Linked DNA regions of Homo sapiens. The protein of the gene in region 2 purifies or fractionates together with the protein of the main gene of each other region. This does not show direct contact. Each region holds a gene or a part of one and is shown on either strand. Other genes may lie near its edges. The genes, in order: CD36 and TLR6.

Region 1 (3,826 bases), on a different chromosome or scaffold from region 2:
GCATTTAAATGTGACAAGTACTAAGTTTAAGAAATGTTCAATTCTGTTTATGTTTTGTTTGAACCTTTTATCTTATTGCAATGTACCTGATGCCATTAGGTAGCCAGATCATAAAATAAAAACTGCCAGGTGTTAATTAGAAACATCTTGGAATAAGAAAAAAATTAAAAACATTTATCAGAAACTTAGATCTCTACTTAGGGGAAATTTTTTTTTTTCCAATGGGATACATGAATTACTCAGTAGTATAAGTGTTCAGAATGAATAGAAGGAAAGTGTTAAGTGGGTAACTGATATAAGCTAAGTACAAGGCAGGCAGAAGAGAGAAGCAGGGAAGAGGAAAGAAGCAGATGTTTGGATCAGCAAACATTCAAAACATGTAGATGATTAATTTATATTCTTGCCCCTTCCTCCCTTTAATTCTCCCATGGACTGGCGTTAAAGTAGGAAAGAGTTTACTAACTTATACTTTGCTGTCTAAATAAGCTATATATATCTGGAAGTGATAAAAACAATAGTAATAGTTTCCCTGCATCCTCACTTTTTGGTGATGGAAAAACTTTTTTTCCACTCCTGACAGTGACATGTCAAGACAAGCCATTGCTTAAACAAAATAAGTGGTTAATCATGTTCAGTCTTGCCATGAGTTAAATCAACCTTACAATCTTAAAATGATGTGAAATTCTTACTCTAACTAGGAGTGCTTTGCAACTCCCCTCCACATCTCTCTGTAATATTAGAGTGAAATGCTCGTTATTTCTCAATATAAAAAATTGCTGTGATTTCCTTTTAAGTGAATACTTAGAAGTGTTTTTTTCCCTCTACTGACTTTTTCTATAAAAATATGTAACTGTGGACTCTTTAGAAGAAAAAGTACTCCACTAGTAATATTTAGCTGTTAAAAGCAATCATTAGATAGACTCAGTTTGAGGTAGGGGTTACTTTATATTAATAAAAACATTTCATCTCTTTTGGTTTTGATCACTTTATTCTTTTTCAGAAAAAAACTAGTCAAACACACAATTGTTAATTTTATGGAGAAGAAAGCTTGTTCCTCTGATATTTATTAGGGTTCTTCCTAGTTTACATATATGATAAATTATAAATTCTTTAGGTGAATAGGCTGGAGCTAGAAAAAAAAAAAGGAAATAATGGCTTAGGAAGCTGATTTGTTATTTTACCACTTTAAAGTTGGCAAAGTCTTCATTTTCACATTTTGTATTTACATTGTAGAACTGCACTTGAAATATTCATTCTATTTTTGCATTGATAAAGTTAAAAAAGCTGAGTTATCAATATGGAAAATTATTAAAGACTATTTGCAGGGGGAAGGTCATGAAAGCAGTTGCCTGGATTCATTAAGCTTCCATCTTTATAGACACATTTAGGTCATGCCACTGGAATATGGAATTCGATATGCTCGATTTAAAAAGTAAAAAAAAAGTTTCCATCTACTACACAATCAGTTGATGTGTTGTTTTTTTTTTTTTTACCTTTTCATTTATGGTTATCTAATTGTAAGAATAATTATACTGTAATGCTGGATAAGTAGCAGAGATGAAAAAATAGTCCCTTTGGGGATTTATGTAACACAACCATAACCTGTGCAGAAAGGTGAACCAAACCTTAAAGTGGAGCTGATAGTCAGCAGCTATGCACTGGTGTGAACTCACCAGTTACCACAACTAAAGAGTTAATACCTAGCAGAACAGGAGTTTCCAGAGCTGAATTATAACCAGGTCTGTTCTATAGGTTGATGCCTATGTCTTATGAGATGTTAAATGAATACTATTCCTGCTTAAGAGTACCCTAGTAACATACATGCACATTTTACCAGAATACTTACCTTTTACCTTTATATGTGTCGATTATGGCAACTTTACTTATGTTATCTTTTCCATTGAAAACTTTATAAACTCCATCTGCAGTATTGTTGTACTGAAATATATGTATGGGAAAATGTTACTTCTACAAGTCATTTTTTCAAAGTTGTACAATACATAACTCACTTTCACATTTCTCAATCACTGGTTACTCAAATGACTTGAAATACATCTGCAATACATTTTTTTAAATTATTGGCCTTAAAAATTGTGAAAGGTGCCTAGAAATAAGTGCTAGATGCTGTGACAAAGAAGATACATATCAGAAGCTGACATGATGTGAACTCTAGCACTCTGTCATAATTAAGCCAATGAGGGCATTTTGATCACTATTCTTACTATGTTGAGGTGAGGGACATTGAACAAACCTATAAGAACAATGATTTCTAGGGGTATTCTAAATGTTACAGTCATTAATAAGTGGTTACTAAAATGATAATAAGTGGTTACTAAAATGATAAAAATTAGACATCCAAAAGTTAAAGCATTAGCCAAAGAAAGAGCTATGAGTATTGAGTTAAAATCAGAATGAATTTGATTCATTATGGCTTTCTACATTCATTTATAATTGATATATAACCTTGTAATCCTAACAGTATCTAAAAGTAAAACAATGAACTAGAGAACATAATATTCACATATAGTGCCAAATGAAGTCATAGTCCAACTTCCAATTCAGTAGTTAGCTTATCCTATTTGTAATTCAAAACATTAAGCGGTAATCAAGTACACCATCAAGTTCACATTTTCCTTAATCTTCAAGCTGCCATTTCATGACATTATGGACTACTAAAAATTCTTATTTACAAATCCCATTAAAATGAAGTCTATTACCTTATCAGTATTGAGATGTGAACATTAGGCTAACTTTTAAATATAAATTAAAATTGTAAGAGGTCTAGAAAAGGAGGAATGAGGAGTATATTTAAAACAAATAAAAATATGGTATTAAACTTGATTATGTGAATAGGGAAATAAAAGCCAAAAACAGTGCTCAAAGATTTACAGACTAGCTTACCGGCTAATTTAAAAAAAATTGTGTATTTATAAATGAGTAGAAACCTTATTAAATCTATTCTTCAGGTTTAAATTTAATTGTTAAATTCAGATGAATTTCCCAACTAGGAAAGCTGAAGCTATAATGAGAAGTGGACTTTTTAAAAAGTTAGGATATATGTCTCCAGATCAGCAATAAGACTAATGAGCTAAATTATAAAATTATGCCTTGCCAATGCCATTGAATTAATTAAATTAAAATGTAATAATATTGCCATTCATATTTGGTACTTACAGGATAAAACAGACCAACTGTGGTAGTAACAGGGTACGGAACCAAACTCAAAAATGGATCCCTATAGCCCCATAACAGTTCTCTCAAAGTTCTGACTTGGAACATAGAAGATTTTGACTTGTTAATAAGTGAATTGAGGATCATTTGAACAAATTGATTTTGATAGATATGGGATGCAGCCTACAAAAACAAAGTCACTGTTTAAGACAAGAATACAATATTAGATTTTAACAAATAAATGGATTAAATGCTAATATTGAGCTTAATACAAAACTTTTTAAAGCTTATCTTTAAAATTACTGCCAGATCCTGCCAAAACTCAAAATGCAATTCGTCTAATTCCTAGATGATTACATTTCTTTGCCTCAGTGCCAGCCACAAGAAGACGACATTCCAAGTTAAGCTCTATTTATTTAACGATACACTTAAAGTGGTCTTCTCAAATATCTAATGCATTAAGGCATACGGGGCTTAAAACCTAGATGATGGTTTGATAGGTGCAGCAAAGCACCATGGCACATGTATACCTATGTAACAATCCTGCACATTCAGCACATGTATCCCAGAACTTAAAAAAAAAAAAAGCCATAAGTCTGGTCCCAAAGGCGCTGGAGCCACACGTGACAGAAATGGCGCAGACAATTGTTGCAGG
Region 2 (4,506 bases):
ATCTTTACCCCTCAGCATACAAAAAAACTATATGATTTGCACCAAACTCCTTACTATTATGACTTCTCTTCTGTGTCAGTCACTATTCCAGCCACTTTAAATTCATTATCTTTCCTAAAAGTACTCCCATTTTGTGGATGAATAAATGGAGGTTAAGGGACTTGTCCCAAGCCTCACAGTAAGTGGCCAAGTGGAGGTTCGGCCCAGTACTGTCTGTTTCTTTGTTTGCTTAACTGTCATTGCCATCTTCGCTATTACTTGATTTTTGTGTTTTTGTCATCCCCTTACAGACGTTTCTGAGTTATGACAGCCTCGACAAGAATAGTCTCCTTGTTTCTGAACATTGGTGTTGTGATGCAATCTCCTAATGAGACATGTCAATGTGCCCAGATCTGCAGTGATAGTTGTCTGTTTTCTTAAGACTTTAGTCCACGGTTACTTGAAATTCCCTCAGAGCCACAGCCAGCCCTTTCCCTTGGCTTGTTTCACAAATCTGGTTTTCCAGGGTCACAGATACCTGCTGCTTTCTGGCTGTCTCCTTTTGCCAGTGGAGCAGAGATCCATCCACTCCTTACTGAGCCTCCCCAGGCCTGAGGAGACTTCCTGTTATGTTTGATGAGTAAGGATGAATCACAAGAAGCCAGCCTTTCTCTTCCTCCTGAAAGCAGAAGTGATTCTTACGGAGATGTCCAACTTTGTCATTAGCCAAATTGTAAGGTCTTAACTTGTTGTTGTTTTTTTTTTAATAAAGATGAGATTGTGCCAGACAGTGAGATAAATTATAGAATGATTGTTTCACTCATGCCTTCTGTCCTTTGCAGAACTCAGTTAAGCAAGAAGTCTGGGGAAAAGGGTTTACTGTCCACCAGAAGTCTCTGTTTAACCAGAGACTTCTGGTAATCAGCCTTTGTTGATGTCATTCTGAAATTCTTCTAAATGGTCTTTAGAAAATTGATTTTTAAATTAGTCTTGCAGGATTTCAGTGTTATTTATTATTCCTAAATTAAAATCTAAACCATTTAATAACACCAAATGTTGATCAGAATGTGGGTATGATTGCTCGTACATATGGCTAAATATGTAGTCATAAATATGTATCAACCAGTAAACTTTCCTTAGAAGTTGATTTTTAAAAAAAAACCCAAATTGTGGAACTATACTTATTTTATTTTAAACTATCTCATCCAGCTAAAATAATGCTCAAAATTGCTTGATAAGGGAAACTGCAATTATTCTTGAAATGTTAAATATGGTGATAATAGAAAACAGGCTGTTTAAAATAACTTTCCACTCAGGTGACAAATGTAATAACCAGGCTGCAAACTCTTACAGAGAAATATTACCTTAGAAAAATATTTTTCTTCACATTGAATTGTTTGTAAGTTGCTTCCTCACACGAATTAGAAAATTGGATTACTGGTTTTGTCTGTAGCCCAGAAAAAACTGCTAACTCACCTCCGGACCTTTGAAAGGTAAAAATATACGTAGGAGTAATTCCAGTGTGGGCCAACAGATGGCACCAATCTGTTTCTAAGGTACCGCTTTACTCAACTTTAAGAACTTGTGTTTGTCAAGCATTTTCAATTGTATTTCCGTTCATTTACAAGTTATTTTCTCTTCTTCTGAAAAAGAGATCTTGGTAAGTAGAAAGACTTCTGTGGCTTTTTCACATTATGGCACAGGTGCTTCAAGTAAGCAAGTTTGCTAACCATTCATTATATAGGAAATAGGTAATGTTTCCTTGAAATTTTTGCAAAATGATTTGAAGTGGTTTTTTTTGTAGATGTTGCAAATGTCCTTTGAATTTCACGAGCAGGATGAAGAGCAGCGTCTTTACAGCTGTCTTGAAAAGATAGAAAACAACTAGCGCTTGTGGTGATAATTAAGGAACAAAACTAATGTTATTTATTTCTTCTGATTTGGCCCAGCGAATTTTCTCTTTTCGTCTTTCTCTAGTTTATTGTTTTCAGTAACATTTAACAGTAATTTTTATATACCACTGATATGGCACCTATTTATTATATGTTTTTACAGCAGACGTGTGTTTGATCTCCCTTGTCGTTTGTCACTGTAACAGTTTGCTGGTCTGTGTCTGTCCCTAATTCATAAGCTTTTTGAAAGCAGGAATTATGTCAGTCCTATTCATATTTATATCCCTGGTGCCTAGTGCGTAGCATGGCACTGGCAGAAAAATAGACTCTGAATAAACATTTATTAAATGGAGGAAGTGGCCGGGACCAAGCCCCTTCACAAGCTTGAATCTGGCACAGTGTAGCAATTGCCTTCCTCCAGGTCCTTCCACCTTCAGTTTGACAAATGAAACAATGTTTTTCTTGCCTATTTGTTAACTTGATTATGTGATCTTTCCTCCACTTATTTCACTTAATTTTTTTTCTGCTCTCTTCTTCCTTGTAGTTTTAATTTTCATAGGTCTTGTCTACCCTTTTTTTCTGAAATGTAGCTTATTTCATCTATTTCCTCACCCTTTTTATTTGATGCATTTAAAAAATCAAGAGCATTTACCTGTTTATTTTTACTTTCTTTAAAAAACTGTGAACTCTCTAATCTTCCACTCTCATCTTCCCATTTTTCCCTCCTTTTTTCCCAATAAATAGAAAAGTTACTATCTTGTTCATTTAGTGTATTCCCTAGGAACTGCCTCAGGGTATGAACGCCTCTGGAGGAATATTGCGTTTTTGTGGCAGGATACCATAAGGACAGCTGACCAGCTTTTCCACCTGGTGACTGATTTTCAGTCCCATGAACCCAGACACCGTGGGTCTGGTTGCCGGGGACCTGTAGGGTAGGTCCTCATCTGTGAATGCCAGTTATCTACTATTATCTGAAAGTTCTCCATCTTTATATTTTAATATTCCAAATAAAACAAGCACGTTTCTTTAAATATAAAATATTTTCACACAGCTATAAAGACAACTCTTAAATTGCCTTACGATAACTTTTTTGGATTATAAAGGACATTCAAAATGAGACATTTTAGGGATATCTGAAAGTATAAGAAAGAAAATTAAATTCATCTATAATTCAGAGATTCAGAGAACCACTATTATTAGTATTTGGTATATTTCATCACATTGTTTGTCCTCTAGCTTTTACGTATATGTCAGGTTTTAATCATATTTTGCAAAATTAGAGTCTTACTACATATATAATTTTTTTTTTTTTTTTTTGAGACGGAGTCTTGCTCTGTCGCCCAGGCTGGAGTGCAGCGGCACGATCTCGGCTCACTGCAAGCTCCGCCTCCCGGGTTCACGCCATTCTCCTGCCTCAGCCTCCCGAGTAGCTGGGACTACAGGCGCCCGCCACCACGCCCGGCTAATTTTTTTGTATTTTTTTTTAGTAGAGACGGGGTTTCACCGTTAGCCAGGATGGTCTCGATCTCCTGACCTCGTGATCCACCCGCCTTGGCCTCCCAAAGTGCTGGGATGAGAGGCGTGAGCCACTGCGCCCGGCCATAATTTTCTATTACTGTATTCATTTAACATTATCATTTTTTCAAAGTACAGTATTTGAGGCTATTATTTAATTATACATAACTGATTTAATCATTTTCTACACTAGACATTCTGATTTTTTCAATATTTCATTATGTCATGAGTATCCTTATAGTCATATCTTCTGTGTGTTATTTTTGACTATTTCTTTAGAAAATTCCTTGTAGTGGAATTGCTAAAATAAAGGAAGGTATATTTTTAAGAAATTTATGTAAATTACCAAATTACCCTTTAGAAAGCTTGTACTAATTTTTCATTCCTGCCTAAGTAGTAAATGAGGGTTCTTATTTTAGTTTCCACCTACCAACCTGGATATTATATTTTTTAATTTTCCCTATTTGATAGGTGAAAAAAAAATCTTGCCTTTTAAAAAATCTTTTAAGAAACAAGAGTCCTCCTTTGACCCCCTTCCTCTTTTTATGCTTAAATATCTTATAGTAAAAATAACAGGCATTCTGGAAACCTATTTCTAAAAGCTTTATTCTCTATCTCTAAAAAAATTACATTTTCCTAAAATAGCCAAATAACATTATAAAAAATTACAATTTATTTCTTAATAGCATCTAATGGCTGGTCCATCATAGAATCTGCCCCTCCTTCTGTTACTGAATATGTTTTATAGCAAGTCTGTCTTAACTGAGATCTAATCCAAGATCATGAGTTTCATCTAGATGTTATGTGCTTTTTTGATTTAACGTGCTGTTTTATTTTTTGTGAGATTGCACATTATTCATATTATTGGCAATTGATTTTTGGCAAATTATTCAGTAAATAGTACAGTAAACTTAATTTTGAATGTTAAAAGTTTGAAAAATATAGATAAAAACTAAGAGGAAAATAAAGTTCCATTATAATCTTACTGTGCAAAGATAATTACTGTTCATATCTTGGTATGTATCTTATTAATTTTTCTACTTGCATAGGTACATATTTACTTTGGTACTTTTTAAATAAACTGCTTTTTGTCACATATAGTGAAAATATTTTCATGCAA

Evidence for each region.
Region 1: the proteins of TLR6 (region 2) and CD36 purify together in Homo sapiens (co-immunoprecipitation; one study listed by IntAct). This does not show direct contact.

Annotation. Positions count from the first base shown.
Region 1 is NC_000007.14:80,662,518-80,666,343, reverse strand, and holds part of CD36 (platelet glycoprotein 4), read right to left. Parts: intron 3,372-3,826; exon of another isoform or gene 3,355-3,371; coding exon 3,175-3,354; intron 1,939-3,174; coding exon 1,847-1,938; intron 1-1,846.
Region 2 is NC_000004.12:38,853,894-38,858,399, reverse strand, and holds the start of TLR6 (toll-like receptor 6 precursor), read left to right. Parts: upstream 1-1,582; 5' UTR 1,583-1,639; intron 1,640-4,506. UniProt on the Homo sapiens protein: Participates in the innate immune response to Gram-positive bacteria and fungi. Specifically recognizes diacylated and, to a lesser extent, triacylated lipopeptides.